Linked DNA regions of Homo sapiens: region 1 is linked to region 2. Evidence: fine-mapped expression QTL. A gene starts in region 2. The other region holds a variant in brackets. All regions are shown on one strand. Distances are from middle to middle. Region 1 overlaps TTLL5 (tubulin tyrosine ligase like 5). Region 2 holds the start of TTLL5 (tubulin tyrosine ligase like 5).

Region 1 (4,397 bases), 61 kb after region 2:
GCTTTTTATATAACAAATTGCCTGTCTCCATATTGGCCCCAAGTTTCGAGTTTTCTAAGTTAATCTCTCTCATTCATGTTGCTGAGTTGGAGAATGGGCACTGTTTGAGCACAGGGCTTCAAATCAAAATGGACACAATTGCTGAGCCTTGAGCAGAACGGGAAACTGTGTGCCAAAAAAGACTTTTCATTTCACAAGGGAAAGGGTCATAGGGGAAGTGTGAGAAGGGAAGTGAGGCTCCTATTCCATTATGTGTCTGTCTTTTGTCATAAGAGGCCACCTGAGGGTATCCCTTGGCACCTACATTCTTGACTGTATTGATCTGTTCACAGATATGCCTGCCTCTATAGCACCCATTCAGAAGTCTGCCATATAGAGGCTTTTTTGAATGAGCACACATGCTTTTATAGTTATATTGTTATCTGGAATCCAGTTCATAATCCATGTATTTTGATATTGAGTCTGAAATTTAAAAATTTTTGTTTGCAGCATTGATGGCCCATGTAGAAGACCTGATCATTAAGACTATAATCTCTGCTGAACTAGCTATTGCTACTGCCTGTAAAACCTTTGTTCCTCATCGCAGCAGTTGTTTTGGTAAGGAGACTCAAGAAGCTTAACATGTTTTGTGAAGAGGATCTTGGGAAGTTGGACGGGATTTTAGGGTAGAGAGGCTTAGTGATTCTATAGCAGTAAGAGGTATGTGATGGACTCTTCTTTCTAAGCTCATGTAGCATATGAAGAGCCTACTAAGAGGCCAATAGTGAGCTTGGTCAGAAGTCCCCTGAGGAGTAACTAGCTTTCTGTGTGGGAAGCAGGGATTGGAACGAACGTGTTGGTCTTTCTGTCAGAGTGCAGTCAGAAAAAGTCTGCAACGGACTGTACAGGAATCCAGCTCTAACAAATATATTCCAGAGCTCCTTGGCAGCCAGGCTGGGAACAGTTCCAAGAAGCTCTGGCTGGTACCAGTATGTGCTTTCTCCCATTTTCCGATGACTCCTCCTTTTTGTTTGAGTCTTCTTTCTAGTGTGTTCCTCCCCCTCCTCTCTTTCTCCCATTCCTCTTCCACTTTCTTTTCTCTTTCTCTTTCTCTTCCTCTTCTCCTCCCCTTCCACTCCACCCCCAACTCCTTGACTGCACAGAGAAGGAATAAGCAGTTCACAACTACAGAATCAGGAAATGTTACCTACTGACCCCCTAGCTATAATGGTAGCACTGAGGGTGCCTATGGACATTGCTTCCTATGTGGAAATGAATGGGTTTGTGATTGCCCATGTGAATGTGTTTAAAGTCACATAGGCTTTTGGCAGTGTTAGGCTTTGTTAGTAAAATACACTAGGGTCTTTGATGGGGAGGATGATTAAAGTGTGGTGTGGAGTAATACAGGTAGTAAGGATATGAGAGTCGTGCTTTGGTTAGAAGGCAGAGTAACAGGGAAATAAAGAATATGGGTTTTAGAGCCTAACAGCCTTAGTTTGTAACCATGTATATCCATATCTAGTTTTGTGATTTTCAGCAAGTTACTCTAATCCTGTTTCCTCAACTATAAAATGGCAGTAATGGTGGTGTCTACCTCCTGAGAATACCATGAAGATCAAATGAGATGATGCACGCAAAGCACTTGACACAATGTCTGGCCCTTACGTTGTACTCAATAAAAATTATTTGTTATTTTTGTAATTAGACATCATAATTCCTGATCTCTTTAACAGATTATCGTTAACAGGCTATATTTGAGGGTCAGTAAACAAAGGGAATTGTTGAGATTGAATAGAAGATGGTAGATAAATCAGGACCTAAAATTATA[T/C]GGGAAAAGAAGAGGTTGTAATATATTTTTTAAAATACATATCTGATCATGTCTTCTGAAATCCTTAAATGGTTCCTTAGGCTTAAATTGTATAATAGAAACTTGATATGACCTGAAAGGCTTCTAAGGTAACTCAGGTAACTCTTCTAGAATTCCATTTCCCCTCATATACCTTATAATCCAGCTGTACTATAGTATACTTCTAAGCACTCTGTGCTTTTGTGCCACTGTATGAGTTCTGCTGTTTGGCCTAAAAACTCTCCTTCTGTCTCTGCCTTGCATGCTCCCATTTCTTTTCTAAGATTTAGTTCTCCACATTGCCTCCTCCCTCATGCTGTTCTTTTTTTTTTGAGACAAGGTCTTGCTCTGTTGCCCAGGGTGGAGTACAGTGGCATGATCACCGTTCACTGCAGCCTCCACCTCCTGGGCCCAAGTGATCCTCCCACCTTAGCCTCTCGAGTAGTTGGGACTATAGGCATGTGTCATCATGCCTGGCTAATTGTTTAAAAAACTTTTTGTAGAAATGTGACCTCACTATGCATTATGCTTTTCTGTGCTTGTTTGATCATTCTCTTTTCCTATCACATCATGATGTTTTGTTTATACATACACTCAGCCGTGTCTGAGTTTATTTTCTTGAATTCATAACAGCCAGTGTGTCCTTTCTTCCCATTTCACCCTATTTCTGCCAAACCAGAGCTTTCAACATTTCTCTTGTCCCCTTTTTAAATTTTTTTTTTTAGTTTTGTATTAGAGACAGGGTCTCACTGTTGTCTAGGCTAGAGTGCAATGGCGCAATCGTATTTAGCTCACTGCAGCCTTGAACTCATGGTACCAAGTGATCCTCCTGCCTTGGCTTCCCCAAATACTGGGCTTACAGGCATGAGCTACCATGTAAGCCCTCGCTTGCTACCTCTGCACCTGTTTTACCGTGTGTCTGAAATACCTTTCTTGTGTTACTTTACCTAATAAATTACAGACATTTTTCAAGACAAAGTCAAGTGTCACTTCTTTGGTGATGTTTTTTTCTAATGCTCCCAGAGTTAGCCTGCTCTGCCCTTATACCCCCAGCACTCTGTTTGTAACTCTACAATAGTATCTGTATGTTGTCTGGTAGTCATGTGTATATTTGTCTCCTGTAGCCGACTGGAAACTCCTTGAGGACAGTAAGAATATCTCCGTCAGTTTTGCCCCCACCATGCATGGCAGCACTTTTTTTTAAATTGAGACAGTATCTCACTACGTTACCCAGTCTGGCCTTGAACTCCTGGGCCCAAAGGATCCACCTGCCTCAGCCTCCCGAGTAGCTAGGACTATAGGTGTGTGCCACCATACCCAGTTGCATGTCAGCGTCTTTTGCTCTTAGAGAATGTTCAGGAAATGTTTCTTGAATGAATGATTGGCACTTGCTTTAATTGCTTTTTGGTGGCCTGACAGTAGACTTCCCAATGGATCTGGTTTGGTAATGGCCTAGAACTCTTAGAATTATTGCAGACTGTTTGAAGATGGGGATGAGGGGTTGGGACTAGGAGCGTAACTCCAACTTCCAAAACCTCATTAGATTTAAATAATAAATAAAGGTTTATTTTTCTACATCTACTTGGCTCTTATATGAGGGTAAATTTCTGATATCCCTTGCTGTAAAAATCTTTGTTCTAAATAATTATAAAACCTTTTCTGAATGTTTCCTTTTGTTTGTTTGTTTGTTTGTTTTATAACTTGATTGCCTTTTGGAAGCTTGGGAGCTTCATTATTGAACTTATTGGCAATAGAATGTTCCGACGTGGAAGAAGCTGTGACTTTCTCTGACTCAGTGAAATACCCCTTAAGTCCATTTCATCAGCCATGGGTCTCCTTTCTTCCTCCCTACTTGTGTTCAGTTTTAATAAACTGAGTGCATCTGGAGTTTTTTAAGTTGTTGACTATCTTCTTGGCTTTTGTGGTTCTAATTCCACTTCCTGTCAGCCCTGGGATTTTGTGTGCTTCATTAACCTCATCCCATCAGATATGATTTTGTATACGTGTGTATATTTGTATGAGTCTCTGCCTCCCACTGACTCCTAACTTCCCCTGGGGTTTAAGTCACAAGGAATAAGCTAGTTGTTTTTTTTTTTTTCCATTTATTTTAGAGTAAACAGGAATTGAAAGCTTCCCAGAAGATTTTGGCTCAAACAGAGCATTGGTGCTTTTAGGGGAAACCAACAGACCAGACATGGGGTTCGCTATATTCTTTTGGTGGTTGTTCCTGTCCTTCCATCTTATGGATCTCTGCCAGGGGCATTCCCTTACTATCTCAGTGTTTGTATCCTATGATTTCTTTCCCATCCTACCACCTGTAATGTTCAACTATGTTTCCAGGTATCTTCAATATCCCATCCTATTTATTTATACATTTAATTTTTCTTCAGTTCCTGCTGTGGGCAAGTCATAGGTTAGCCTTTCGGCAGTGTATTACCATCAAGTTTGTTCCTCTCAAACCAAATTTTATGTAGGATGAGATACAGATATAGATATATATATACCTCCATTGCACTATTAGTGTTTAAATGTAGACTTGAGAACCTATACAAACTACCCGAAACTTTGTCAT
Region 2 (4,397 bases):
AGATGAGGGTTGGAACAGAGAGGTTAAACAAGTTTCTTAAGGTCACACAGCAAAGTTGGCAGAGCTGAGATAAGAATCATGGTCTGCTGGACTGCTGCAGTGCTACCTCATTGTTTGAGACTATTTTAATGAAGTTCCCATTTTTTGAGAAAGAAAAGCATACCATATCCACTTTTGTCTTCAAGTTGTATGGAAAATACAATTAGATTACATACTTTTTGTTTTTTAATTTATTATTTATTTATTTATTTTTTTGAGACAGGGTCTTGCTCTGTCACACAGGCTGGAATGCAGTGGCATAGTCATGGCTCATTGCAGCCTTGAAATCAAAGGCTTAAGTGATCCTCCTACCTCAACCTCTCCACTTGGGCTCAACTGATCCACTCACCTTGGCCTCGCCTCCCAAATGCTGGGATTACAGGTGTGAGCTACAGCACCCAGCCTTTTTTTTTTTTTTTTTAAGGCTTAGTTCAACTCTTGTTGAGTAGTAATTTCAGTTAGTCTGATTTAAATAAAACCAAAATAGATAAATAATCTAATAATGGAATGACTTTTTCCCATCCTCATTATTATTTTCTTGGTCCACGGTTTATCTGTTGTCAGGTTAACCTCTTGGGCCTGAAGTGGTAATAAACTAACAGGCTTTCTTTGTCACTTTGGCAATACAAGTTTCGGTATTGTTCTCTGCTACCCAGTGGGACAGATATTAAAGTCAGCAATGGCCCAAGACAGTGTGAAACACCGCCGCCCCCCCCCGCCAACTCCCCGCCCCAAACAAGCAATAAAGAGATCTAGAGAAGGAAGGGTGAATTGATGAGCCCTTCAGGGAGAGCTGGATCACAAAGGTGGTCTCTGTCGAAGATCAGAGAGACTGAGGGTCTACTGGACATCACAGGCCATTATCATTTGGGCCAAGATCCACCCATCCTCTTTATTTTCTCACTCTCTCTCAAGAGGAGACTCCTCCGGGGTTTAGAAAAGCTGCATGGATGCACCTCTCCACTTTTCTGCACAAGTATGCCTTCCATTTCACAGAAGTGTTATCTGTTAGAAATCCCAACAGATAGCTGATGAGGACAGAGCCTGAGCACTTCTGAATTGCTCTGCCAATTTCTCAACCTAATTTCCCTAAAGCTTAAGGGCCTCTTAGAGTGTATACAACATCTATTTCCAAATTTTGTCCTGGCCCTGGCCCAGCCCAGCCAAGCCCAGCCCAGCATAGGTGTGCTGTTAAAACTTAATCAGGAGAAAGGGATTCTTATCCTGGCCCTACCACTTAGTAGCTGTGTGACCCTGGGTAAGTCATTTACACTTTTCAGTCTCGGTTTCCTCATCTGCAAAATGGAGATAGAAATATCAACCCGAAGGGCTATTGTAAGAATTATATGACAAAAAGTGAAGGCTCTTTGTACAGTGCTAGGCTCATAGTGGCTGCTCATTCGCTCATCCATTCCTTCGTTCCTTGAATTCACCAAGCCTTCTCCATCTTCCTAGCTCCCCCTTGTCATCGCCTCTCGAAACCTTTTCCCCCCAAAAGGTTGCCTTCCAGTTATCTTCCTTCCATCCCACCTCCATTTTTCCAGACTCTCCGGATCCTCTCAATCAGAAGCAACACAGACACCTACATCCCTCTTCTCCCCCATATTCTCCTTACCTGGCGACCGGGCCCCCAGCACAGCAGTGGCAGCAGCAGCCGCTGCCGCAAACAAGCTCCCCCAGGACAGCTCCAGCCCGGAGTCCACCTGAGCCATTTGTCCCCGCCCCCTCCCTCAGCCCTGCTCCAGGATTGGGCCGTTTCCGTCAGTACTCTCTCTGATTGGCTGTCCCGGTTTCGCCCGAGCAGGAGATGGGGAGTGAACCCCTTTACTGCCAATCAGCGGTTGCCGCTGCCTAAGCCTCTCCCCAGGTACGCCGCTCACGCCGTAAGCCCTCCTGTTGGACCTAGCGGAACTCCGGGTTTGGAGTCAACCTCTTAGGGGCGGAGAAAAAAACAGCGGAAAAAAAAAAAAAAAAGAAGACTCCCTTCAGCTGAGGGCAGGGCTCTGCGCCCGCGCTGCGCGGCGGTGACGACATTCGCCCGCGTCCGCAGCTGAGCGTTATGAGCGCCTGCGCAGTGGCTCCGAGCGGGCGGTTGCTTGTTGGTTGTTGTAGTAACCGGGGAAGCAGCCGTCGGCGGCTGCCCTGAGCCTTCCTGGGGAAGGAGGAGGGAGGTAGGCGCAGAGCGCGGTCCACGCCTGCTCGCCCCGAACCATGGGAAGATGAGACAGGTAAACGCCTGCGCCCGCGCGCTTCCCTACCCTAGGGAGGAGCATTCCCGGGTCCGGGCTGGCGCCTGCAGCAGGACTTCCCGCTCAGAGCCCGGGAGTAGCTGTTGGCTTCCGGGCGCGCCGCGTTGAATCGCGGCTGCGGGGTCGTCCCGTCCTTCCCGGGGGGAGCATCTGCGGACCTACGTGGGATTGGGGTGAGCTGGGGGTGGGGCTGAGAAGCAGATTCCTTTCGGGAGAGGAGTCTCCTTAGGTGAGTATCTCTACTCTTCTTCCGATAGACCTGTTTCTCCCCGCTCTGCAGGCAGCCTAGGAGAGGTTGGCATCCCTTCCCGTTTGGAGGTTTTGTTTGTTTAAACTTAAAGGGCTTCCCAGCATTTTGGGAAAGATCAAGAAATCCCGTTGAGAATCCCCTGAAGAAAGCCATTGAAGTTGTTAGACATTGCCTATTGCGCCGAAGATCTTTGATCATTATCGGGGTCTGTTTTTTTTTTGTCTTATTTACAGTCTCATCGTATTTATGAATGCATGGAAAAGTTAAGAAGGATTGACAGCAAGTAATTATCGCTGAGTAATTTGGGATTATGGTCATTTAAACATGTTTCTTTTATTTGTAGTTCCTATTTCTTCTTCTGACACACACAACGAACATGTACTTTTTTACTTTAGAAAAAATATTTTAAGTTAGAAATGCAGTGTTGGAAATTTCCTAATTTCATCGTCTATTTGAGAGTCGTACCAAACTTTGTGATTTTTAGGAAGAATAATTTTTAAGAGTGGAAGGGCATTCCTCCCCTCCCCCACCTATTTATATGGACCTTTGATTCAAGAGAATATATTCATCTTTCGGTTCATTGTTGAATTTATTTTACTGGAAACATGATGGCATCTTGTCAGCGTGCTTGTCATAGAGTCTAAATAAATGTTGGCAGGGGTTTTTTGTTGTTTTTTTTTTTTTGAGACGGAGTTCACTCTTGTTGCCCAGGCTGGAGTGCAATGGCGCGATCTTGGCTCACCGCAACCTCCGCCTCCCGGGTTCAAGCGATTCTCCTCCCTCAGCCTCCCGAGTAGCTGGGATTACAGGCATGAGCCAGCACACCCGGCTAATTTTTTGTATTTTTTTTTTTTTTTTTTAGTAAAGACGGGGTTTCTCCATGTTAGTCAGGCTGGTCTCGAACTCCCGACCTCAGGTGATCCGCCCGCCTTGGCCTCCCAAAGTACTGGGATTACAGGCGTGAGCCACCCTGCCCGGCCTGCAAGGGTCTTAAACCTTGAGTTTTTATTTATTTATTTTTAACCCAGGCCAGGTTTGTCTAGCAAGGAATATATGTTTTAGGGAATCAGTCACCTGCCTCAAACTGAGTGAAAGTGAGGAGTCTATCCTTTTGGTGCATATTCGATTTAGTAAATAATGAGAAACTCAAACTTAGTAACAGCTCTTCAAATATATAGAGCACAGACTGTATGTTTGAAAAAAATCTTGATTTTTGTGGCATATTGAGGCACATATTGAGGCACATTCCATATGTTATGGAAAGTAAACTTCTAGAGGTTGAGCACTGTTTAGGAATATAGTCATTTTCATTACTTAGATTATCAGCAATAACCAATAAATAGACAACTGCATTGTGTTTCAGGTCAATTGATCCAATCAAGTTGATTTCTTGCAGGAATCTGTGCCATCCAAATTGCTTGATCCAGTGAATCTGCTAGGAAAGGTCTCTGAGGCCCCCGTCTGCTGACTGCATGACAAACCCTAAAGGAAATGCCAATCGTGATGGCCCGGGACCTGGAGGAAACAGCATCATCCTCAGAGGATGAGGAGGTCATAAGTCAAGAGTAAGTAATAGCAAGCCTGCTTTCAACCTGTGCTTTGTACTCTTTCACTTATATACTCTTATATACTGTTTTACTATATACTCTTCTCTTTTACTTATGTACTCTTTTATCTAGTGTCATTCCTTGGGGATTATCTAACTCTGGTTTTAGCTTCTATCCATAATGTCATTTAAGGTCTTGTTACTCAGTCCCTATCAGCTATGAGAAATGAGATAAGGCTCTCTTTCTGGGCCCATAAGTGAACATCAGCTCTAGATGTTGTAAAATGCAAGTAGTAGCTCTTGGTGAACTCTT

The links. PIP is the estimated chance that this variant, and not a neighbour inherited with it, causes the effect.
Region 1: its variant is the best candidate, but not a certain one, in a credible set for the expression of TTLL5 in testis (GTEx, PIP 0.68).

The regions. Positions count from the first base shown.
Region 1 is chr14:75,720,107-75,724,503 of GRCh38, forward strand. It overlaps TTLL5 (tubulin tyrosine ligase like 5), which reads left to right. Exons shown (of 32, transcript NM_015072.5): 12 at 490-597. Among named protein-coding and RNA genes, the nearest start is that of TTLL5, 61 kb to the left of the region's middle. The variant T/C (reference allele first, on the strand shown) is at 1,808.
Region 2 is chr14:75,659,121-75,663,517 of GRCh38, forward strand. It overlaps TTLL5 (tubulin tyrosine ligase like 5), which reads left to right and starts at 2,126. Exons shown (of 32, transcript NM_015072.5): 1 at 2,126-2,267; 2 at 3,935-4,103. The coding sequence starts at 4,030. ERG28 (ergosterol biosynthesis 28 homolog) reads right to left here and starts at 1,756. Exons shown (of 5, transcript NM_007176.4): 1 at 1,655-1,756. RefSeq lists a silencer at 1,818-1,867 and an enhancer at 1,978-2,197.